Homo sapiens: one gene and its partners. The protein of the gene in region 2 purifies or fractionates together with the protein of the main gene of each other region. This does not show direct contact. Each region holds a gene or a part of one and is shown on either strand. Other genes may lie near its edges. The genes, in order: EPS15L1, HNRNPH3, RPRD1B, DNAJC3, GSTK1, HNRNPA2B1 and PLEKHA7.

Region 1 (3,500 bases), on a different chromosome or scaffold from region 2:
TGCCAGGAGCCCAGATTTCAGGGGCTGGGAACCCAGCAGGGAGCAGGAAAGACAGAGCTCCTCGACCCTCCCGGAGCCCATGGTGTGGCAATCATAGGACAAAATGGTGGCTTTGGAGCCCATGGTCTGATTCAGACGCCTGTTCTCCATGGGGGTCTGACCAGTTGTTTTACCTCTCTCCCTCTCAGTTTCCTCATCTAGAAACAAGCACAGGGACAATGGCACCATTGTTGGTCCCACAACATTCCCTCACTCCTGCATCAGACCTGTGCCCCAAATCTCTCCCCAGGGCCCAGAGCTGCCTGCCTGGGCCCACTCACTGGTGAGGGCAGTCAGGGTACCACCAGGGCTGGGGTCCCGTTGCCACCTGTTCTGGGAGACCAGGTTACCAGAATCAGGGAAGTGGGGGGGAGGGCATGGTGGCTCACACCTGTAATCCCAGCACTTTGGGGGGCCAAGGTGGGTGGATCACTAGAGGCCAGGAGTTCGAGACCAGCCTGGCCAACATGGTGAAACCCTGTCTCTACTAAAAATACAAAAATACAAAAAAATTAGCCAGGCTTGGTGGTGTGCACCTGTAATCCCAGCTACTTGGGAGGCTGAGGCAGAATTGCTTGAGCCCAGATGGCGGAAGCTGCAGTGAGCCAAGATCATGCCATTACACTCCAGCCTGGGTGACAAAGCGGGACTCCACCTCAAGAAAAAATAAAGTAAAACAAAGAATCAGGGAAGTGGGACTCTGAGAAGGCAGAGAGGGGGCCAGGAAGCTGTGAAGATGGTGGTGGGAGACAGGGCCTGTGCAAAGGGTGGGGGCAGGACACTGGTCCACGCAGTGTACAGCCAGTCAGAGAGGCTGCACCCAGCTGCTTCCTCCAGGCCTGTTGGAACAGAGGAGGGAAAAGACAAAAGGAGGCACAGGCGCCCTCTTCCTCCTGTCCTTTATTCCCAGCCCAGTGGAGGTGATTCATCCCACCGCTGTGGGTGCCACCTGACTTCCACGAGTGTGTCACACTATGTCCTAATTTTCTGTGTGCCTGGGTGCCCAGCTGCAGTTGAGCTGACCTGGAGGGTGGGGCTCGGTTTTATTTATCTTGGTCCCAAGACAGCACACAGTAGCTCAGCAGACAGAATCTCATGGTGCCCCAGCCCCAGAGCTGGTCTTCTTTTTGACTGTACCTAAATGTGGGGTCTCACGTGGCTTGGAGGGTTTCCTGCAAAGTGATGGGTTTTGACTCAACTGACACAGCCACAGCCCACCAGGCTCTGCCCACCAGGCACTCCCACTGCTGCTGTCCTGGCTCCCTGAAGGTGGCCTCAACCTGACGGTTGCAGACACTATGCCTGCTTCTTCCCCCTGCTTCCTCTCCCACCTAGACCCTCACCTGTCCAAACAGCTACCCCACATATTCCTTTCACCCCCAGCCCTTTCTACTCTTCCTGAAACAACCTCAGGCCAGGTTCCTCTTGATCACTTCATGCCCATATCACAGAGACTGTCTCGGAGCTAGAACCCAGCTCCAAGCACTCCCTGTGTAAGCAGCCAGATCATCTAAAGGTGTCACTCCTCAAGAACCTGCCATAGCTCCCTACTGCCTCTCATAATGTGGCCCATGCTACTCTTCCCTCAACAGATGATTGTTGAGCACCTGAGTGCCAGCTGCAGCCTGGCAAACAAGGATGAATAAAACAGGCACAGTCTCTGCCCTTGTGGACCTAGTCTAGGTGGTTGGGGAAGACAGACCATCAATCAACCCCGCAAAGAGAAAATTATAAACGGCTAAATGGAAAAGGTGTCCATCTCCACCAGTGGTAACAGAGATGCTGGGCCAGTTTGTCAGGAAAGGCTTCCCTGAGGAAGTGATGCCCCAGCTGATATGAAAAGGTGTAGGGATTCACCAGAGGATGAAGGGTTTGGAAAGAGCATTCCAGAGAGAGGGAATAGCAGATGCAAACGCCTTGAGGCAAGATGAAGGATCGCCTGCGCAGATGACAGAAAGAGGGGCCAGGGGGCCACAGAGCAGAGGGAATGAGGACTGCAGGCCTGGGAAACACGGGGAGCAGGTGTGCTGTCAGCTGCCGGTAGCAGCGCCTGATCCAGCCTGGCTGGTGTGCCCAAGAGGAGGAGAAGTGACTTTATGTCAGCCTGACCTGCAGGCAGTCAGTAAACAGATTCTGTTATCAGGTCTACATTCCACACCACAGGCAGTGCAGATGGAAATCCGAGACAAATGTCTGTGGTCATCTGTGACCTTTACTTTCACCCCAAAGCTTGTAGTATCAAGAGCTGGGACTCCTATGAAGGGAAAAGCCCAAAGAAGCTTTAAGAGCTAATGGTCTGCACTCCATGCAGGAGCAAACTTCAGGGCCACCACTCTGACCAGCGGTAAAACCCAGTCCAGCGCGAAGGACAGTGGGCAGGTCTCAGCTCCTCAGCCCCCACCAGCCACTGGCCACTCTCTCGGCAAGCAGACATCCTGTCAGTTCGGCCGATTTGTAGCCCAGACACAAACTCTCACGTCTTATTTACCAAAAGACCTTCCTCCTCTCATCCCTGAGCTGCCTAAATTAAAGGAAGGACATGAACCCCAAAGTCCCAGCCGCATGTTTTGGCCCTTTGACCTAGACCTGCAGCCTCTCAGCTCTGGCTCAGTCCTCTTTGCCTCCGTGTGAAAGGCTATTCCCCATGGCCTAGACCAGGGGTGTCCAATCTTTTGGCTTCCCTGGGCCACACTAGAATTGTCTTGGGCCACACATAAAATACACTAACACTAACACTAACACTAACACTAACACTAACACTAATGATAGCTGATGAGCTTTAAAAAATTCACGGGTGGGCATGGTGGCTCACGCCTGTAATCCCAGCACTTTGGGAGGCCAAGGCGGGCAGATCACAAGGTCAGATCGAGACCATCCTGCCTAACCAGTGAAACCCCGTCTCTACTAAAAATACAAAAAATTAGCCAGGTGTGGTGGCGGGTGCCTGTAGTCCCAGCTACGCAGGAGGCTGAGGCAGTAGAATGGCATGAACCCAGGAGGCGGAGCTTGCAGTGAGCCGAAATTGCACCACTGCACTCCAGCCTGGGCAACAGAGCGAGACTTAGTCTCAAAAAAAAAAAAAAAATTCACAAGAAAACCTCATAATGTTTTAGGAAAGTTTACAAATTTGTGTTGGGCTGCATTCAAAGCCATCCTGGGCCACATGCAGCCATGGGTTGGACAAGCTTGGCCTACACCAAACACGCCCTCTCCTCCATACAACCATGTCCAACACCCAAATGGAAGCCAGTCATCTGCCCCTCCTGCAGCTTGGACCACCCGTGACCTGAGCCTCTGCTGTGGGCCGGGCCTGGACAACTCAATTCTGCATGGGCCAGGAGCACTGATTACCACTCTGGCAGGGAAACCTTTGGATTCTCCTAAAGACAACTGGCTGGGAGTGGTGGCTCACACCTGTAATCTCAGCGCTTTGGAGGCAGAGGCAGGAGGATCACTTGAGG
Region 2 (3,500 bases):
TTTTTGCTTTCAGTACATCCCACGCCATCCACCTCCACTCATGCCGCCTTGCCCATAGTAACCTCCACTGCCTCCACCACCACGGCCTTAAGAAAAAGATATTAAGAATCACTCAGCAGGAGATATCTGCATAAAATAATAAAAGTAATACCTGCACTTTAAAGTTTGCACTACATATGCGGACTAACACAAACTGAACTAGAGATACTTACCATAACCACCCAAACCATCAGGAGTACCATATCCTCCACTGTAATTGTTCCCCATTCCCATTCTTCCAACTGATCCATAGCCTCCCTGATTATCTTTAAAAAGAAAAAAGAAAAAAAATTGAGACTCATCGATAAGCAGCTAACCCTGCATATTTTAAAAACTTTACATACCCATTCCATCTCTTCCGTAGCCTCCCATTCCAGAACCTCCCATGCCAGAGCCGCCTCCAGGAGTAGAATTCAAGAAGAGTTCAATATATCGATGTTCTTTAAGAAAAAAAGAAAGAGTAACAGGGGAGAAAGGAATGATGGATAAAATTCATCAATACAAGCTTTGTAAAAAAGATCAATTAAGTAATATTAAACAAAGTATGCTTATTAATTACTAGTACAGCGATATATAAAGCCCACAGAAAGCCATTATAGAGGTCAAATGGTTTTAAATCCCAACAACTGCCAAGCGTTACCTACAGATCTTAGAGCCTCTTATTTTATAAATTCACGTTTAGGAAATAAGATTGTGTGCCAAAGACACCACTTACGCATGTTATTTTTATCTTTAGACATGGCAGCTACTGCATCTTCATGTGTCACAAACTCTACATCTGCTTCTCCTGTGGCTCTGCCATCAGCTCCAATATCAATATGAACTCGTATTGGATTTAGTGGTGAGAAGAACTAAATAAAAGGAAACACTTATTTACTTTTCTATTGAGAATATTAAAGTAAATTACCACATACCTTGATTTTTCCTCATCAATTAAAACAAACCCTTCCACTGCCCTGTCAGACTAATAACTTAGTCAACTACAGAGGTTCTGTGAATATCAGAGTATACACTTAGGGATAATGTAAAGAATTTACTGCTTTTAAAATAAGCAGATAGGCAGGGCGCAGTGGCTCACGCCTGTAATCCCAGCTACTCAGAAGGCTGAGACAGAGAATCGCTTGAACGCAGGAGGTGGGAGCTGCAGTAAGCAGAGATCACGCCACTGCACTCCAGCCTCAGAGAGACAGAGTGGGAGACTGTCAAAAAAAAAAAGCACACAAACACACAGAGAGAAATACGGGATATCATGATTTGGAACTATGCGGTTTGAATAAAGCCACCTATTTAAGACTATATGAAATTGTTCCCCAAAAGATATCATTTGGTTCTAATCACAAGTTAGCCAGGTTTTAAACTATCATTAAAAGCAGTTGGAACTCAGGCCAGCTGATTCCCAGTAAGATCTAGAGCACACCATTGCTTTTAAAGCCAGAGTCAGTACTTTTGGCCTGAATGGCCATTGGGTCTCTAATGTAACCACTCAACAGGTAGAGGAATGGTGTGACCGGATTTAGCCCATGGACTGAAGTTTGCTGACCTCCTAACAAATCTGAAACCAACCAGTTTCACATCAGTGACAACAGCAGCATCTATTCCTGTTATTTCCAACTCCTCAGTTTCTAATCACCATCTAGCCTAGAAAGCCAAACCAAATCACTAATATTTATATATTCACTCTTTCAAACCCTAATACAGGTCAGGCGCAGTGGCTCACGCCTGTAATCCCAGCACTTTGGGAGGCCAGGGCAGGCGGATCATGAGGTCAGGACCAGCCCGATCAACATGGTGAAACCCCATCTCTACTAAAAATACAAAAAGTTAGCCAGGAGTGGTGGGGTGTGCCCCTGTAATCCCAGCTATTCAGGAGGCTGAGGCAGAAGAATAACTTGAACCCGGGAGGTGGAGGTTGCAGTGAGCCGAGATCGCGCCACTGCACTCTAGCCTGGGCGACAGAGCAAGACTCTGTCTCAAAAAAGAAAACAAAACAAAAAACGGTACAACAAAAGACACCAGCACAAAATGGTATAGTCATCACCATTCTATGCTGATCAGTCTTTCATTATACTCTTAACTGGACTTCACGAATGTAGCTTTTTACTTGTTTGAATCCTATGTAGGTTGACACACAATGGATACAAAAATATCCATCAGTGATTAGAATTAAAGGTAGATCTAATTAGCCAGGCGTGGTGGCGGGCACCTATAGTTCCAGCTACTCGGGAGGCTGAGGCAGGACAATGGCGTGAACCTGGGAGGCAGAGCTTGCAGTGAGCCGAGATCACACCACTGCACTCAGCCTGGGGGACAGAGCAAGACTCCATCTCAAAAAAAGAATTAAAGGTAGATCTATTTTTATATTCAAGGGATTTTGGTATTAAGCTATAAACATGAGAACATTAAGAATGCTTAAAGATTTAGACACCAGGATAAGTATAAAACCACTAATAGTTATTAAAAATTACTCACATTAGCAATGTCATTTTCAGTTGCACGAAAAGGCAACCCTCTCATATGTACGAAATGACCACCATGAAAACCTGAACTTGCATCACCAGCTCCACCATAGCCATGTCCTCCCATACCTGGAAAACACAATTTGCCAAGATTATAAACTATTACAGATACAAGTAGGGAAGTATACATACATACTATACAAGGTATAAAGCTCTATATAGGAATGCACTGAAATTTGTCTGAATTAACTTTATACAAGTTTCCTATATTACCACTAAGAGCTTGCAAAGCAAATACTAAAATTTACCTATGAATAAAAATGTCTTTAATATTTATTTTACCTCTTCCATCTCTCATTCTGTCATCAAAGCCATCATTCCCATAGCCGTAATTATTATAGCCACCATAGTCATCAAAACCTCCATAACCTGTGTAATTTAAGGAGAAACACATGACTACACACTTTCCAGAGATAAATTTTATAATTTAGTTTACAAAAACATTTTGTGGTAACAGTCTGTGTAACTTGATTGCAAGTTTGCAATTCCCAACTTAAAACCTATGAAAAAAGCAGTCAACGTGATGGAAATTTAAAATCTCAGAAAGTTAATTAAGTTCAGACATGTAAATTAAATTTCATCCTTAGGCAAAAAAAGGTCAAAATATGCCAACATCTTAATTTTAATTTCTGTGTAAGTTTTCTAGGTGCCAATATGTGCATCAGTCAAGTCCCACAGCTAGCCATGGGAATCCGTATTTTCATGAACAGGTTTTAAAACCTAATAGGTACTGAAATTACTGCCATTTCTGTATTTCTTGACAAAGTGTCAGGAACATTAAGAAAATGACAACAGAACCTTTGTTCATTAGATACACATACCACCATCATATCCATCACCTCCTCGTCGCATTCTGTCATACATACTTCCACGCCCAGCTCCATAATAACCCCCTCTTCCTCCTATTGGTCTATCATATGGTCCCGGTCGCTGTCCCAGCAATCT
Region 3 (3,500 bases), on a different chromosome or scaffold from region 2:
CTAGACTTTCAAAAAAAAATCAGAAACCCACTGAAGCTATTCCCAATACTATCACTGCCACAAATTCCACACATTCCCAGAGTGCAAACCTATTCCTCACTCTTTTCTCCCTCTTTCCTATAGCATCTAGCATATCTGTTTATTCAAAGTATGTGTCCAGCAAATGTACATTAAATTGAAATTCAACATTAGCTTCAAACATCCTCTTTCAAGGCTCTCCTACTTGCCCAAAGGTGTTCTTAAAAACCAGCACTGTTTACCAATGAACTCTAAGGCAGAGTAAAGAATGCTGAGTAATTCCCCAAAGCTGTACTGAAGACCTCCAAAGGACACAATAAAAACACCAGAATCCAAAGCAGGAAACATCTTGCTTTTCAGAAGCTACCAATCACCTGAGTGATCCTAAAATTATCTTCTAGCAACACCAAGTAAAACAACAATGACCTGCAGTCTGAAAGCACTTATGTCATTCACAGAAAGCCTCTAACCTTTGGTTTCACAGGAAAGTTACCCACTGCAAAATGCAAATAATTCCAGACCTGGAAAGGATCATGAAGGGTACACAAAAGGGTTACTCAGTGAAGGATACTGTCACACATGCTAATCATGACTAGGTTCTATAGCAGATGCATGTATAAAGTACCAGAGAACAAGGAGGGAATGACCACATGGGCCCAGACAAGCCAGGGAAGATGTCAGAATGAGAGTTGCATTCTTGGAGAATGAGTTCATCACACAGTGAAAGCGGTAGAAGGACATCAAGTAGAGGTAACAGCAGATGGAAAGGAAGCAGTGCCAACAGAGCATCCAGAGGGTAAACTGTCGGCAATTCAGTTTGGCCAAAGAATACAGTGTAAGTGAGGAAGTGGCAGGAGAAGAATCTGGAAAAACAGGCTAGTTCAGATAGAAAGGGTCTTCAATACTATCAGTACTTGGACTCGATCCTCCAGGAAACATGTATGCAGGCAGATCAGATCTGTAGCTAAGAAACATGTCATGCCAACTAGAATTAAACCACAACTAACCAGAAGCCAAGTAACTAAACAACATTTGATCTTACTCTTTAAAGAAAAAAATAGGCCAGGTGAGGTGGCTCACGCCTATAATATCAGCACTTTGGGAGGCTGAGGCGGGTGGATCACGAGGTCAGGAGTTCAAGACCAGCCTGGCCAAGATGGTGAAACCCTGTCTCTACCAAAAATACAAAAATTAGCTGGGCATGGTGGCAGGTGCCTGTAATTCCAGCTACTCGGGAGGCTGAGGCAAAGAACTGCTTGAACCCGGGAGGCGGAGGTTGCAGTGAGCTGAGATCATACCACCGCACTCCAGCCCAGGTAACAAAGCAAGACTCTGTCTCAAAAAAAAAAAAAAAAAAAAAGAAAAAAAGAAAGAAAAAAGAAAAAATAATATAAGCTCTTATTAAGGGCTTTGCAAAATTCACACACAGATGCACTTCCTAAAGATATCCTGGGTTCAGTAAAGATCAAAATCAGTTTTAAGCTGGGCGCAGTGACTCACACCTGTAATCCAGCACTTTGGGAGGCCGAGGCGGGCAGATCACTTGAGGTCAGGAGTTTGAGACCAGCCTGGCAAACATGGTGAAACCCCGTCTCTTCTAAAAATACAAAAATTAGCCGGGTGTTGTGGCAGGTGCCTGAATCTCAGCTACTCAGGAGGCTGGGGCAGGAGAATGGCTCGAACCCAGGAGGCGGAGGTTGCAGTGAGCCGAGATCACGCCACTGCACTCCAGCCTGGATGACAGGGTGAGACTCTGTCTCCAAAACAAACAAACAATCAACTTTAGACAGACACCATGCTGACAATCCTAAGGATATGTTTCAAAAGCACATCTACATTTAATTAAATCAAGTTCTTAAAAAGCTAAGAAACTTATCCAAGGTCCTATTGTAGTTAATGGCAGAGCAAGGACAAAATCTTAGTCCAGGCTACTTCCTAGTTCACCACAACTCTGAACAACTTTGTTGTTCCTTTCCTTGTGCAAGGAAAGTCTCTGAAAGACAGAAGCAAGCCAAGGAGAACAGAGAGCAAAAGTCAGGGTGTGAGAGGATGAATAGCATGAATACTAGAACCAGGCTTACACGCTGTGAGCACTACATAAATTCTCACCATCATTCATGATCATCTGTCTCTCTGAAGAATCATAAAATCGCTGGTGGTTCACAGCAAACCCCACTGCAGCTTTTCATATTTGATTCGAAAGTAGGCAAAGACCAAGAGCTGTAAACATGTGGTGATGTTTCTACCTTTGGGGGGAGGGCTCTTGGAGTCCTCCATAGACAGCTTCAGCTGCTGTATGAACTCGCCGCCATACACACTTCGTTCTTGCCAGATGTTCAGCAATCTTTCTAAAGGTTTTTTACAGCCTTCATCTGCCTCTCTGCCCAGAAAAGATGAAAAGATATATATAAGCTTAAGATTTTTTGCTTTTAATTAGGACAGACCTACTTAAAAAAAAAAGAAATCAACAACTGACTAAATGATTTACACATTTAAAACCAAATAAGGTACATATTGTAATACCTGGATACCCAAAACTTGACCACAAACTACATTCTTCGTGCAGTGGGAGGGATCATGCCATAATTGAAATCAAATAGGACCAAAAGTCAATGGCCAATTTTTACAGACAGAAAATTATCAAAACTCCATCTTATCAGTTGTGATAGCTTGCTTTTTAAGAAGACGTTAATTAAAATGCCAGACATTCTGCTGGAAATTAAAAGTGGATCAGAACTCTTAAAGATAGAAAAATGATTTTAAAAAACCAGATGTTTAAAACAGGAAATAAATTCACTGCAACTCATCAATTCTAACACACCAACACCTCTACATGTATAAACACAATCACATACATGTATATGTCAAGAATCATTCCAGTTCTAACCACTGCATAATTATTTTAATTCTGGGCTAAGTCCATAGTCCAGGTTCACACAAAGGTATCTGATAATCTTAGAACACACTTAATAATGCAGTCCTTCATAATTTATATCAAAGGATATGAATTAGAAGTTAGAAAATGTTTTCCCCTGACATGTTAACTCCTGAAACAGGATATAAAGGACTATAACTAGCACTCACTGAGAACCAATTGCCTACAATAAAATCTCAGACAGCAAGCAGAAGATTGGGTTAGACTTTCTGAAAGCAAAGTGAATTCAGTCACCATGCACTGTTACCATGAAATCTTCTGTTTTGTGAGGGGGTTTAAATGGCAACGATCTTATACTGAATGACTTTAAACAAGAAGGGATACCTCGACATCTTAGTATCTAAGTTAAATGGCTTTTAATAGGAACTTCAAGGAGAAACCATGCCAATTCAACTGAGATGGGAACTCTATTCACACCCGACCATGACAACGCTTTCATAAACTCAAGGAGAACTTAGGTTTCAGCCTAGCCCAGTCAGAATGTCTCACTTATGAATTATTAGTGGTAAATTTCACTGACTAAAGGACTCAATCAGAGTACATAAAA
Region 4 (3,500 bases), on a different chromosome or scaffold from region 2:
TAAGGAAGTTATTTCATTTCTTTGCTAATGGTTTGTCCTCTTGGTGACTTGAGTAGCAACACAGCCTGGGAACGAAACCTTTTTTCTCTTATCATAGTTTTATCTCTTTTTCTTCCTTAACATGCTATCTGGACCCAATTTTTCTTTATTTCATTGAGCTGATTAAACCATATATTTTGGCCATGGGGAAAAGAATAGTTGAAAATATATAGTTGAAAATCTATACGTATAAAATATTGTGATAAGTTTTATTTGAACCATGATAAGTTTTATTTGAACCTAACCTATTAAAGGTATGTTTTGTCTTTTCTAGGATTTTCTTGACATTATCTAAATAGGGAAAGAATAAAGTAGCAAAAATGAGTGACTTTAAGTAATTTAAATAAATTAAGTATCATAAAAGGTGGTCACATATTTTCTAGAATTATTTTAAATTCTTTAATAAGATAGGCTGTAGTTAGCAGTAGTATCAAAGTTCCAGTTCTCTTGACATAGTTAGTATTTGCTGAGAAACTGCCTGGAAATGCAGTGGTTTTCATTCTGTGAGGTAGGGGAAGTTGTTCTGGGAGGGGATGCACTGTAGTAATTAGGTTTTATTTTCCCATATGAAGTTAATTAATTGTTGTTAAGTTTAATTTCTACTGCTGTGGTCTCTTTTGATTAGTGTCCTGCAGTTAATCTTTGTTTATATGGAAGTATCATGGGAACCCATTCACCTGCTCTTCAGAACGCAAACATTTCAACCATAGATTTATTTTTCTTTCCATATCTTTAGAAAGCTACTTAAAAAAATTAAATCTGATGAGTTTGTATCATTTGGAGTTCTGGAATATGGAGAAGACTCATTTAATCAGTCAGCAAAGGCTTTTACTAACTATATTGCTCTTTGGTGAGGTATATATACGTAGCATAGAACTCATGGCTTTTGCTTTTGAGTTTACAGACCACTTAGGGTTTAAGACATGCATTTGTGAAGCATTCACGTCCTCTTTTTCTCCTTTCCCGCTTTAGACTGAGTGGTCCATTATTGTAGTTAGTGTACTGCAAATGCCCATTTATTTTCTGGCCCCTGTAATCTTCTGTTTTACTCACCTGCCAAAACCCAACACTGGTTAAATTCAACTTGGCCAACTGTTTTTATACCTTATAGGTAAACACGGACGGAGGAAAATGGAGACAACTTTGCTGATTAGTCTCATTTATCTTTATTTTTATTTTCAATTTTTTTTCGAGACAAGGTCTTGCCCTGTCACCCAGGCTGGAGTGCAGTGGCATGATCCTAGCTCAATGTAGGCTTGACCTCCTGGGCTCAAGCAGTCCTCCCATCTCAGCCTCCTGAATAGCTGGGACCACAGGTATGCACCACTGCATCCCCTACTAAGTTTTTAAAATTTTTTGTAGGGACAGGGTCTTCTATGTTGCCCAGGCTGGTCTTGAACTCCTGGGCTCAAGCAATCCTCATCCCTTGGCCTCCCAAAGTGTTGAGATTACAGGCACGAGCCAATGCACCTGGCCCTGATTAGTCTCATTTTAAAGAAACAATCTCAGTCGCAAATGCACATTAAATACTGCTAACACTCCCACAATTCTTTACTATGTCTATTCTTGAAAATCAATATTTCAAACATTTTCCTCCTTTCTGAAGCCTCTAATTTAAACTCTCCTTTCCTCTCTCCCCTACCTCATTCTTTTAGACCTTGTCTTTACTGAGAAAATGAAAGCCATCACAAGGCAAGTTCTTCTTTCTACCTCAAAATTCACTAGCTTATCTACATTTGTACCTATTCTGCTACTTTTTCTCATATTGAAATACATTAAATGTCTCTATTCCCAGATAAATCTAATCTGTGTACTTACACCCTGGATTCCATTTCCTCTCACCTTCTGAAAATGTTGCTCCTACAGTTGTATCTTTGTGCTGCTATAACAAAATACCACAGACTGAGTAATTTATAAAAAAAATTTCAACCTGAATTTTGGAGAGAACATTCAGATAATAGTAGATGCTGAACTTCCTGTACTATCTTTCTTTGGCTAGATTCCACTGTCTTCTGTGTTTCTGCTACAAGACTTCTTTTAGACTCTACCCCACCTTGCTAGAGTCTTGGCTTAGCCTTCTGTTCTTTTTTAGAGAAGAAACTTAGGGCTTTCCTCATTCCTCATATTCTAAGTGCTCCAACCTGAATAACCATCTCTCTCTCTGGGATTGCTCTCTGGTCTGGGTCTGCCACCGCCTTTGCTTGAACTTTAGTATCTTTGACTATGAGTTCTTGCCTCCTTTAGTCTGGTTCTTCCAGTCTTGATTGTAACTCACGTCATACCTTTAACCCCCCACCTTTAAGTTTAAAAAAATCCTTATTTTCTGCTCTCCAAAATATAAGATATTCTAATACTAATTTCAGTGAAAGACATAGTTGGCTACTCTACCTTTTTCCCTGCCCTTGCTGCTTATTTTGCTGACTTATGATCACTGCTTGTCTAAGGAGAAACCTATTGTCTAATGCTGATTAGGAAATGGCATGATGTTTGGTTGTCTTACCTCTCTGAAAATAATGTTTACAGACCATGTGGCAAAGGAATAAAAATTACCTGTGGCTCAAAAGAGAGTGGATTGCAAAAACAGCCAATAATTCGCAAATAATTTGATTTTTCAGATGTGTCTTTATGAATCATTGATCATATGTTTGACTTGATAATTGTTATGTATTTTAGATTTTATTCTGATGAATTATAATACGTTTAAGTAAAAAGGCAAATAGTTAAATTCATTCAACAAATATTGCATACCCACTATGTGCGGGATACTGAATTAGGTGATACAAAGAAGAAAAGACAGCTCCTCCTCTCAAACTTGCTTTTGATAAGTTTTGTGGAGTTGGGACTTTGAGAAGCAGGCAAATTGTGAAAAGCAATATATAGAGAGAGTGATATTGCAAAGTGAAGTCATGTACTTCTGAGTGTGGAAATGCAAAATATAGGAAGATTGAAGGAGCTTTTTTTCCCTCTCTCAAAACAATACAGTGTGAGGGAAGGTTTCACAAAGGAGCCAGCATTTGAGGGCAGAATCTTTTTTTTTGTTTAACTTTATTTTATTTTAGATTCAAGATATACATGTGCAGGTTACATGGGTATATTGTGTAATGGTGGGGTGGTATGATTTAGATCTGTGCCCCACCCAAATCTCATGTTCAGCTGTAATCCCCAGTGTTGGATCTGGGGCCTGGTGGGAAGTGATTGGATCATGGGGGTGGTTTCTAATGGTTTAGCACCATCCCCCAGAGCTGTTATTGTGATAGAATTCTCACAAGATCTGGTTGTTTAAAAGTGTGCAGTATCTCCCCCCTCTCTGTCTTCCTCCGGCTCTGGCCATGTGAAGATGTGCCTACTTCTCCTTTACCTTTTGCCATGATTGTAAATTTCCTGAGGCCTCCCCAGCCATGCTTCATGTACAACCTACAGAACCGTCAGCCAATTAAACCTCTTTTCTTTATAAATTACCC
Region 5 (3,175 bases), on a different chromosome or scaffold from region 2:
TGGAGTTTTCTCAGAATCTGCACTGAGGGTTAAGGGAGGTATCTATGAAAGGGTGTGCAACTTCCCCAAACCGCAGCAACTCCAGCCAGTTTCCCGGTACTGCCTTGCCCTGGTTTTGCAGGTGTGGCTGGACCCAGTTTAAATATCTGGCCACAAGCTCAGCCAGACTCTGGTTCCCTCGGCTGTTCACTCCCACTGGGCTTCTGGTCCCAGCCCCATCTCAGTCACTGTGGTTGGTCAGAAGACAGTAAATCCCAAACTTGATTAGTTGCAAAGTCCATCTGGCTTGGTTTTCTGTTGCTGATAGAGAGACCAGGGGAGTTTCTGTGTGAGAGAACGGGGGACTATTCTCACTTCTTCCACCGCACAAGCTGCTCAAGGTGGGCTGCATGGCTGGTCTGGCTGGAAATACTGAAACAGCTCTCCTTCACCTACCCCTAGAGTAGGCAGGATGTGACCCCAGGAATGAGAATATACCAGGGCAGATACAGACACAGAAATGTTTTGCCTGATGGCATTAGGTTTATTTTGTGGGAAAGCAGAATTGGGGCTCTCTGAAAGGCACTTGTGAGGCATAGAAGTAAAGGTTGCCACATGGCTAATGGTGGACGTCTTCCTGGCATCCTTGGGGGTAGGGGAAAGACAGACAGCTCCCAGGGCCACAGAAAATACCTCTATCAGATAGAGAAATCCGAGTCCCAGTGCCTTATGGTGGAGCCAAGGGTTAAGCAGATGGCCTGCTTTTTTTATACGAAGAGTTTGCTTCCTCCGGGCAATCTTAAAGTCTGGCATTCACGGCTGGAGGTATAGGGCCCATCCACTTCTCTCCTGGATGAAGAAAACAACAGACTCTGCACACTGTTCTCAGGTGTTCTGGCAGCAGGAGTTGGTCCCACAAGGTCCCAGGGGTTTTCTAGAAAGACTTTTGCTTGGCTTCAAGGTATAGAAGGCTTCCTTTTCTTTTATGGGGTTGAAGACAGCCCCTGCCCACTCAACCTTGAACAGCACTGACTGCATAACGCTTTGTTACTGGAAGTGCCAAGAATATTTTTTTGCTCTGAGCCCCTCCTTCTGGTCAACTGATATAGTGGGTGTGGAGCTGGGGTCAAAGGCAGCTCAGGGTTGAATCTTTTTATTTTTTGAGACGGAGTCTTGCTTTGTCACCCAGGCTGGAGTGCAGTGGCGCGATCTCGGCTCACTGCAACCTCCGCCTCCCAGGTTCAAGTGATTCTCCTGCCTCAGCCTCCCACTGAGGCAGCTGTAGTCCCAGCTAATTTTTATATTTTTAGTAGAGACGGGGTTTCACCATGTTGGCCAGGATGGTCTTAATCTCCTGAACTCGTGCTCTGCTCGCCTCAGCCTACCAAAGTGCTGGGATTACAGGCGTGAGCCACTGCACCTGGCTCAGGGTTGATTCTTTAACTTACTTACCCAGCAGGTGCGCCAGCAGCTCCATCCGGTCAGAGCCAAATAACATGTGGGTTTGGCCATCCACATGGGCCACGGTGATGGGCAGCCCAAAGGCCTGGAGAAAGCAGTTACAATGCAAGGAGGAAGGCAAAGGAGCAGGTATTAGGCAGGGGTTGAAACCTTTGAGTCAGTACTTTTCTGAGTTCACAGAAGCAAAGAGGTCTAAGAGGCTCTGTGGCCCCAGGTGCCTTCCTGTTTCTAAGATGCTCTCTTTTCTCTCACTGTGCATCTCCTTCCCTTCCTTTCCCTGAGCCCAAGGAAAAGAAGGAAGAAGATGAGGGTTGTTTAAGAGCACTGAGGAGAACACTTGGAAAGGGGGCTTTTGTACAGGAGCATAAGGACTCAAACTTAGAGATTCTCAAGTCTCCATCTTCAGGATGGGTGCTGGGAACACACATAAAGAGCTGCTCACTCCGTATCTGCAGGCTGCCTCAGTGGTCTCCTTGAGCTGGTTCTTCACCTTTGGCGTTGCGATCTTTTCCAGAAGTCCCTGGGCTTGTTCTGCAGACATACCAGCCTTCTCTGCAGCCTAAGGGAATATAGTAGGGAATACAACTGTGTCTGCATGATATTGGATGGGGATCTCAGAGGAAAACTCTGGTCTTTTTATTTTCTGCCCCCAAGTTTTGCTGGCAATGCCCTTACCCACCCACAAGTGGAGATCTGTCCTTGCCAAGAGGAACTATTTCCTTTATCCCAAATCTTGAGATGGGTGGAAAAGGAGAAAAGGTAGATGGCACAGAGTCAATCACAGAAATTAACACCAGCGGACATCTTAGAGAGCAGCTAGATAGACCTCTTTATTTCACAAATGAAGAGCCTGAATCCAGAGGTGATACATTACTTGCTCAGAGTTACAGAGCATGTTGGTAGCAGAGCCAACACTAGAATCCAGGTCTCTAGAATTCAAGTCCAGGGCTCTTTCCTTCCTACCTCTCACAGTTCCTAAGTATCTCATGCTTTTTTTGAATCAAGAGCTAGGCTGTAATTCCAGTGGAACTTCCTGAGAACTTTGTAACAAGGCACATGGCTGCAGCCACCTACCTGGCTTCAAGACAAAGATAAAGGCTTCAGTTTGTGGTTTGTTGGTATAGTTTGGGATAGATGGTTCTTAACTTTGGCTGCCCATCTGAAACTCCTGAGGAGCTTTAAAAAATCTCCACGTGAGGTCATCCCTTAGAACTAGATCCAAGCACTGTGGCTCATGCCTGTAATTCTAGCACTTTGGGAGACTGAGGCAGGAGATTGCTTCAGCCCAGGAGTTCGAGACCAGCCTGGGCAGCAAAGTGAAACCCCCATCTCTACAAAAAATTTTTAAAAAATTAGGCATGGTGGCACATGCTTGAAGTCCCAGCTACTCGTAAGGCTGAGATGCGAGATCACTTGAGCCCAAGAGGTTGAGTCTGCAGTGAGCCATGATCATGCCACTGCACCCCAGCCTGGGTGACAAAGCAAGACACTGTCTCAAAAAAAAAAAAAAAAAAAAAAAAAAGAAAGAAAGAAAAAAAAGAACAAGAACAATTACATCACAATTCCAGGGGAAAGGGTTAGCGCCAAGGTGCTCCAGGTGATTTTAATTCACAGCCAAGATTGACAACCACTGCAACTTGACTTCCTAGATCAGAAGTGGGACCCAGGAATTCATGTAGCCTGTCCTAATGAGACACTATCTTTGACTTGGTTAAATTAGAGAATTATGTCCTAC
Region 6 (3,500 bases), on a different chromosome or scaffold from region 2:
TGTTTTGTATTTTTAGTAGAGATGGGGTTTCACCGTGTTAGCCAGGGTGGTCTCAATCTCTTGACCTCGTGATCCGTCCGCCTCGGCCTTCCCAAAGTGCTGGGATTACAGGCATGAGCCACTGTGCCCAACCGAGAACATTGTTTTAAGATATGTAATTCGTAGAGAGACATAATAGAAACTTTATCTTTTGGGCCAGTAGGAGGAAGTGCTCTTTTACTTTCCCTCTAGCCCACACTACTAGTCTAGCCTCACAGTCCTTACCCACAATATACATGAAGTATTTCAAGATACTTAAGATTTTTAGTTTTGAGGGAAAGCTGTGGAATTACAGGTATTTAACTGTGTGCACATGGTGTTATCCATTTGGCTGAGTAACCCCAGCCACCAAATGTTTACCAAGGATAGTTATTCAGTCCTTGAAGCTATTTTAGAGGAATTTCATTAAATATTTCACATGGAAACTTGGAAAGCTGGAAATGGATGTGAGGAGACAGTTCAAAATGGTATTGAAAATATTAAGTGATTACTTAAAGGCTTATTTTATAATAGGTGGCAATTTTGGAGGTAGCCCCGGTTATGGAGGAGGAAGAGGAGGATATGGTGGTGGAGGACCTGGATATGGCAACCAGGGTGGGGGCTACGGAGGTGGTTATGACAACTATGGAGGAGGTAATAAATTCACCTGCAACCTTTATGTGGGAATTTGGAATTAATGTCTTTGTAACACTTGATCTTTTGTTTCCATGTTTGTCACTAGATGCCCATAAAATTTGTGGATAAGTGTTTGCTTTTATTTGTTTTTATGGGAGCTTTGTCCTAAGTCCTTGGTTTAATGTTTGTATTGTTCTGAGTATTCCAATTTTTTAATAGGAAATTATGGAAGTGGAAATTACAATGATTTTGGAAATTATAACCAGCAACCTTCTAACTACGGTCCAATGAAGAGTGGAAACTTTGGTGGTAGCAGGAACATGGGGGGACCATATGGTGGAGGTAATTTATAAAAATTGAGGTTATTCAGATTTTTGTGATTAAAGGATTAGCCTTTTGTGACTTAAAGGGAAGATAACATACTAAGTAGTTTGTACTGTGGGCAGTGCTCCATGTACGGTCTTAGTGAAAATAAAGAAATTTTGCATAAATCTCCACAGAAGTACTCAGCAAGCAGTTATGACATCAAATTGGGATTAGGGATGTTGGAGGTGGGGGTGTTCAGTAGTTTAATTTCTGGTGGGGACTCATAAACAGCTAAATACAGTTGCAACCCACATTGCAAGTGGTATACATTGGAATGAGGGTCTTTGAAGTTAAATCCTTAAACCATGATTCAAACCATTGCTTAGCTTATTTTTGAGGTTTTTAGCTAGGAGTAAACTAGCTTTGTCTTGGGCTTGATGTACTTTTAAAAAAATCCCTTACTCAGTCCAAATGAGGATGAGAGGGTGAAAGGACCCTTTATTTAAAAGAATAGGGTCAGCCACGAAATAAAAATGTCTATGAACCCGAGTAATTTATCTCCTGAGTAATTCTGCTAACTGGCTGCAAAGGATTAGGATCTGCTTGTTTAAAAGACTGGATGGATATAAAATAGAATCAACTGTAGTGTTAGGCTGATCATGGGAAATCAAAGTAAGTTTGTTTTCTCTTGCTGTTCCAACAATTATAGGAAACTATGGTCCAGGAGGCAGTGGAGGAAGTGGGGGTTATGGTGGGAGGAGCCGATACTGAGCTTCTTCCTATTTGCCATGGGTAAGTAGCTTTTGAGTTTTACAATTATTATTATCTTGGGAGACATAGCTGCAGGAGTAAAAGCTTTTTAGGATCATGTTATCTTTCCTTAAAATCTGGTTAGATGGATAATTTCATAACCTATTTTTTTTTTACTCTTTACTTCTGTTGAAACAGGCTTCACTGTATAAATAGGAGAGGATGAGAGCCCAGAGGTAACAGAACAGCTTCAGGTTATCGAAATAACAATGTTAAGGAAACTCTTATCTCAGTCATGCATAAATATGCAGTGATATGGCAGAAGACACCAGAGCAGATGCAGAGAGCCATTTTGTGAATGGATTGGATTATTTAATAACATTACCTTACTGTGGAGGAAGGATTGTAAAAAAAAATGCCTTTGAGACAGTTTCTTAGCTTTTTAATTGTTGTTTCTTTCTAGTGGTCTTTGTAAGAGTGTAGAAGCATTCCTTCTTTGATAATGTTAAATTTGTAAGTTTCAGGTGACATGTGAAACCTTTTTTAAGATTTTTCTCAAAGTTTTGAAAAGCTATTAGCCAGGATCATGGTGTAATAAGACATAACGTTTTTCCTTTAAAAAAATTTAAGTGCGTGTGTAGAGTTAAGAAGCTGTTGTACATTTATGATTTAATAAAATAATTCTAAAGGAAATTGTGTAATTATAGACTTTTTATTTTAAATAAGTTAAGGAGTGGGTAGTATAATTAAGGTCCGTTGCAAAGCTGTTGTTATATTTGTATAAGATAAATGCTGGTCAGATGTAAGTGTGTTGTCTGCAATTCATCAGGATTAAATTATGTAGATAACTTAAGGGATATCTCTGCAAGGAGAAACACCTTTTTAGATCTTTTAGATGCTGCTTCTTCAATGCAAGGAAAGGAAATAACCCCAGCGAGGTACTCTTCAGGGACACAGGTCTAGTACAAGAGAACTCTTGACGGCTACTAAGTTCAGCCAGTCTTAAAAAACTGTGCTGTTTCTACAAAACTTTAACTACAGTAGTTTATAAGGATGCCAACGAAAGCTGAGGGTGTAGAGCAAAATAGTTCTAAGCTTCAGTTAAACTTCTTTAGGTAAGATCTTATTTACTTTTCCTTTCTTAATTTTCCTCCCTAAAAGATAAACTAATACTCTTAAATGGTCTTTCAGTATAGTGGTTCTTACGTAGTTTAACATAGCTATAAATTGAGTTTAACAATTTATAAACTCAAGAGAATAATTTTTATAAACCCTGTTTTCCAATCTGTCATTTACTTAAATTATTTTGGTTGTTTTTCCCTTTTTTTCCTTCTTTTCCCACCCCCTCCCCCTCCATGTGAAGATTTGGGTGCTTAACATATCATTTTTTTCCCTGCCGGAATTTTAGCATTGATATGAACCATGGACAAGTATATTCTGCTGCCACAAAGACTGTAAAGTGCTTCATTTCAACAGCTGAGGCAAGCCAAGTGATCATTAATAAAGCTTTTCTTGGTTCCTTCAGTGGTGTTGGTAGTAAAATGGTAGGTAAAAGTTAGGCTGCAAGTTCAATAAATCATGAGATTTCCCATCGTTACACCCTTGTGTATTCACATTTCTTGGATCAAACATTTTGAGTGAACTAGGGGTTTTTATTAAAGACATTTGTTGTATTTATGGTTGTAACTGTACATGCTTATCAGGATGAGACTGAAAGAAGGTAGGGCAAAAATGGTTGAATCTATTTTCAGATAGTAGTTCATACTTGAGTGAAGTGTCTTGTCTGCATT
Region 7 (3,500 bases), on a different chromosome or scaffold from region 2:
CTGTGTCAATTCTGTCATTAGGACAAATAAAGGCACTGGCAGTAAAAGGGCTTCAGGAAGTTTTTTTCAGGAAAGCAACAACCAACAGTGCAACCTCACCCAGACTCAAGCTTTTTTTTTCTTCTGCTTTGAGACAGTCTTGCTTTGTCACCCAGGCTGGAGTGCAGCAGCGTGATCTCGGCTCACTGCAAACTCCACCTCCTGAGTTCTCGTATCTCAGCCTTCCGAATAGCTGGGATCACAGGAGTGTACCACCACACCCAGATAGTTTTTGTATTTTTAGTAGAGACGGGGTTTCGCCATGTTTGCTAGGCTGGTCTTGAACTCCTGGCCTCAAATGATCCACCCACCTCGGCCTCCCAAAGTGGTAGGATTACAAGTATGAACAACCACACCTGGTCTCAGACTCGAGCTTTGAAGATTGAGTTAACTAGTTAACTAATCAAAGATCAGGGAAGAAAGGAGAGGCACTGCCTGTGGAAAAAGGTGGGTAGCTGAAAAATGTTTCTGGCAAAATTCATCTTGAAAGAGGAGATAAGCCTAATATTCCCCTACATTTCCCTGATACGCTCTTCCCCTTCACTGGGGACCCAGTGACAGCCAGGTGACCCTAAGCAAGTCATTCAACTTCTCTGAGCCTCAGTTTCCTCATCTCTAATATGGGGGTTAATAGCTGCCCTCTGGACTGCATTGTACTAACTCAGAGGAAGGAAAATGTTGATGAGATAGGGCTTTGCAGGCTATGTCTTGTCATTCACCCTACCGATTTTCCATGTAAACTGGGAGCGCTGACGGTGTGGGTCATGTAACCCATGGAGGGCATGGAGCGTCGGTCCACATGAGATGAGTTCTGCAAGTGGGGAGACAAGAAGTCACACTGGAGCCCAAACCTCTGCCACTCACTCCCAGGGAAGCCGCCCCATGCCATGTCCCCTCTGAGCCCCAGACTTCTCATCTATGAAATGAGCACACACATCTTACTCTCAGGGTTAGAACACTAAACTGTGAAAGCCTCTTGGAAAGTGAAAACTTAAGCTGGATTGTTATAATTTAACTGACTGGACACAGATGTCTTTTCCTGCCTTTCAAGATGCAAGGAAGCTGACTTGTAGTTGTGTGACCCTGTGCAAGTTACTTTGTCTCTCAGCGCCTCAGAGTTCTCATCTTTGAAATGGGCATAAACATAGCACCTACCTCACAGGGTTGTGGTGAGAATTTAAAGCGAAGCCCTTGGGAACTGTGCCTGGCATCTATTATTAAAATGTACTGCCTAAGTATTAGCTATCATTATTATCCCAAATTACTCAAATTTGTGTTCAAACCAGGCAAAGCTCCTGGCGCCCTCATGATGACCCAGCAGCCTGGCAGAGCTTCCCGAGCCTCACCTTGACAGCGTGGCCCCGTGCCCTCCTTGGAGAATCCCCCAGCGAGATGTCCACACTCCTCCTCTGGTCCGGTGGCTTCACTGTGACTCGCTCTGCTGGTGTGTGTGGCCGCCGGGGTGGGAAGACCCTTGGGGGTCCTGGGGGAGGGATGTCCGAGGGAGATGGAGGCACAGAGATGGAGCGGGGCACCTCTAGCATGCTCCTGCTCCGGCCCTGGTCGGTGAACTCTGGGGAGCCAAGGCAGATGGGCGCTGTGGGGCTGCCGTGCCGGAACTGCTGGCGCTGCTGCCACTCGTAGAGCTGCCACACGGTGCCATCCCGGTGCGCCCGGCGCTCTTCACTCGACATCTTCAGGTGGCTGGCTCGGTCCTGCGCATACTTGTAGTCACTTGGCAGGTTTCGGGGAGGTGGCGAGGAGCCCCCCGAGGGGTGTCGGGTGCTCTTGGGAAGAGTCTGGTAGTTTTCTGGGAAGGACAGGGATTGGCCAGGACCCTGGCGAGGAAGCGTCTGGTCCAAGGGAAGACTGAGGAGAAAGGGTAAGAACGGGTCAGGCAACCAAGCGAGGGTTCTGCAGGCTTTGGGGAACATATCTAAGTAAACCCACAAAGCTGGGCATGTGGGACAGTCCTGTAAGAACCTCAAAAGAATGATCAAGGCCGACATCCAGGACTTCAGTCACTTCCCCTTTTGGCAGACGACTCCAAAACCATTTTTCTCTGTCAACTTCCTCTGCCAGGACAACTTGGCTACCCCATGCCCATCACTTGGAGTGCAATGTGATTAAACCTGGCTTTTCCTTCTCTCTCCGCTGCCAGCAGTCAGCTCTTTCAATGGCTATGCATATTTATAGGAAAGGCCTCACAATTCTCCAAGTTACCAAGATTTTCTCTCTGCCTGGTATCCTTAGCACCAAGTTCCAGAGGTTCATAAAGGAAGTGGTTGGCATCAGTTCTCTTTTTTCTGGACTCTTCTAGTCCAGATACTGATTAATTATCTCCCTCCAGACAACTCTGAGATGCTCCTAATGGGTTTCCACTTTGTCCACAGTCAAGTGCTCTGATCATATCAGTTCCTTGCTGCAAAAACTTCCATGGCTCCTTGTCCCTTCTGAAATAAAGTCTAAACTCCTCAGCCTGGTACTCACAGCTCGCTAGCAGCTGACCTCAACACCCACCTTGCAGGCCTGCTGTTTTCTCACTGCTCTTCCTACGGGCCACGCCAAATGCCTAGGGCCCAAAACTGAAGGAAGTACTCCATCTCAGGGTCACCCCTACACCTGCTGGTGCCTGACAGCCTCACCCTAGTCCCGTCCCAGCCTCCTCCACACCTTAGCAACATCTTGCAACGGAAAAAGGAAAAAGGAGTCTAACCTGGGTTTGAAGCCAAGCTTGACACTTGCTGGCTTTGTGACCCTAGGCAGCTCACCTGACTGCTCTGACCTTCCGTTTCCTTACTTGTAACAGGAGGATAGTATTACCTGCCTCATAAGGCTCTTCTGAGGAATCAATGAGACAGGTTAGGAAATGCAACCCCCACATCTGATACACAGAAGGTCCTTCACTAACGTGTGTACCCTTCCTGCCCTTCTTACTCTTATAACACTGTTCTTCCCTCCCCCTGCCTGGATGGTCTCCCCTTGCTCTATTTACCCAAGTCTTACTCATTCTCTAGGATGCTGGCTCATGCCTTCCCCCACGTGGACCTTCTGTAGTGCCACAGCCCTCAGTGATCCAACTCTGTTTGACCTCGTCATCACACTGCCTGTAACTTTTCCAAGGTCCTATATTGATGTGATCTTTTCATACTTCCAAGACATGTTTTCCCAGGCCAAGGTGAAAAATTCTTGAAAGACAGGAACTGTGTTTCACACCGTGGTATTGTCCACAGTCTAAGAAAGTCCTGTGCGTAATTAGCCCTTCAATAAACACTCCAGCACACAAAACTGGATATGACTTCAAAAACTAACACCAACTAGCCATCTTATTTTCTTTCTTTTTTTTTTCTCTCTTTTTTTTCTTTTTTGAGACAGAGTCTTGCTCTTTTGCCCAGGCTGGAGTGCAGTGGTGCAATCTCTGCTCACTGCAACCTTCGCCTCCTGGGTTCAAGTGATTCTCC

The links.
Region 1: the proteins of HNRNPH3 (region 2) and EPS15L1 fractionate together in Homo sapiens (co-fractionation; one large-scale study listed by BioGRID). This does not show direct contact.
Region 3: the proteins of HNRNPH3 (region 2) and RPRD1B fractionate together in Homo sapiens (co-fractionation; one large-scale study listed by BioGRID). This does not show direct contact.
Region 4: the proteins of HNRNPH3 (region 2) and DNAJC3 fractionate together in Homo sapiens (co-fractionation; one large-scale study listed by BioGRID). This does not show direct contact.
Region 5: the proteins of HNRNPH3 (region 2) and GSTK1 purify together in Homo sapiens (co-immunoprecipitation; one large-scale study listed by IntAct). This does not show direct contact.
Region 6: the proteins of HNRNPH3 (region 2) and HNRNPA2B1 fractionate together in Homo sapiens (co-fractionation; 3 studies listed by BioGRID and IntAct, with this or other methods). This does not show direct contact.
Region 7: the proteins of HNRNPH3 (region 2) and PLEKHA7 purify together in Homo sapiens (co-immunoprecipitation; one large-scale study listed by IntAct). This does not show direct contact.

The regions. Positions count from the first base shown.
Region 1 is NC_000019.10:16,461,971-16,465,470, forward strand, and holds part of EPS15L1 (epidermal growth factor receptor substrate 15-like 1), read right to left. Parts: intron 1-3,500.
Region 2 is NC_000010.11:68,338,564-68,342,063, reverse strand, and holds part of HNRNPH3 (heterogeneous nuclear ribonucleoprotein H3), read right to left. Parts: coding exon 3,377-3,500; intron 2,925-3,376; coding exon 2,838-2,924; intron 2,625-2,837; coding exon 2,509-2,624; intron 953-2,508; exon of another isoform or gene 891-952; coding exon 755-890; intron 480-754; coding exon 384-479; intron 306-383; coding exon 213-305; intron 87-212; coding exon 10-86; 3' UTR 1-9.
Region 3 is NC_000020.11:38,047,246-38,050,745, reverse strand, and holds part of RPRD1B (regulation of nuclear pre-mRNA domain-containing protein 1B), read right to left. Parts: intron 2,401-3,500; exon of another isoform or gene 2,399-2,400; coding exon 2,265-2,398; exon of another isoform or gene 2,144-2,264; coding exon of another isoform or gene 2,128-2,143; intron 1-2,127. UniProt on the Homo sapiens protein: Interacts with phosphorylated C-terminal heptapeptide repeat domain (CTD) of the largest RNA polymerase II subunit POLR2A, and participates in dephosphorylation of the CTD by RPAP2. Transcriptional regulator which enhances expression of CCND1.
Region 4 is NC_000013.11:95,680,139-95,683,638, forward strand, and holds part of DNAJC3 (dnaJ homolog subfamily C member 3 precursor), read left to right. Parts: intron 1-3,500. UniProt on the Homo sapiens protein: Involved in the unfolded protein response (UPR) during endoplasmic reticulum (ER) stress.
Region 5 is NC_000007.14:143,266,441-143,269,615, reverse strand, and holds the end of GSTK1 (glutathione S-transferase kappa 1), read right to left. Parts: intron 2,000-3,175; coding exon 1,883-1,999; intron 1,526-1,882; coding exon 1,432-1,525; intron 829-1,431; coding exon 779-828; 3' UTR 501-778; downstream 1-500. UniProt on the Homo sapiens protein: Glutathione S-transferase that catalyzes the conjugation of glutathione to exogenous and endogenous compounds. Significant glutathione conjugating activity is found only with the model substrate, 1-chloro-2,4-dinitrobenzene (CDNB).
Region 6 is NC_000007.14:26,190,747-26,194,246, reverse strand, and holds part of HNRNPA2B1 (heterogeneous nuclear ribonucleoproteins A2/B1), read left to right. Parts: intron 1-552; coding exon 553-672; intron 673-873; coding exon 874-996; intron 997-1,669; coding exon 1,670-1,731; 3' UTR 1,732-1,752; intron 1,753-1,908; 3' UTR 1,909-3,500. UniProt on the Homo sapiens protein: Heterogeneous nuclear ribonucleoprotein (hnRNP) that associates with nascent pre-mRNAs, packaging them into hnRNP particles.
Region 7 is NC_000011.10:16,815,415-16,818,914, forward strand, and holds part of PLEKHA7 (pleckstrin homology domain-containing family A member 7), read right to left. Parts: intron 1,909-3,500; coding exon 1,386-1,908; intron 851-1,385; coding exon 764-850; intron 1-763. UniProt on the Homo sapiens protein: Required for zonula adherens biogenesis and maintenance. Acts via its interaction with CAMSAP3, which anchors microtubules at their minus-ends to zonula adherens, leading to the recruitment of KIFC3 kinesin to the junctional site.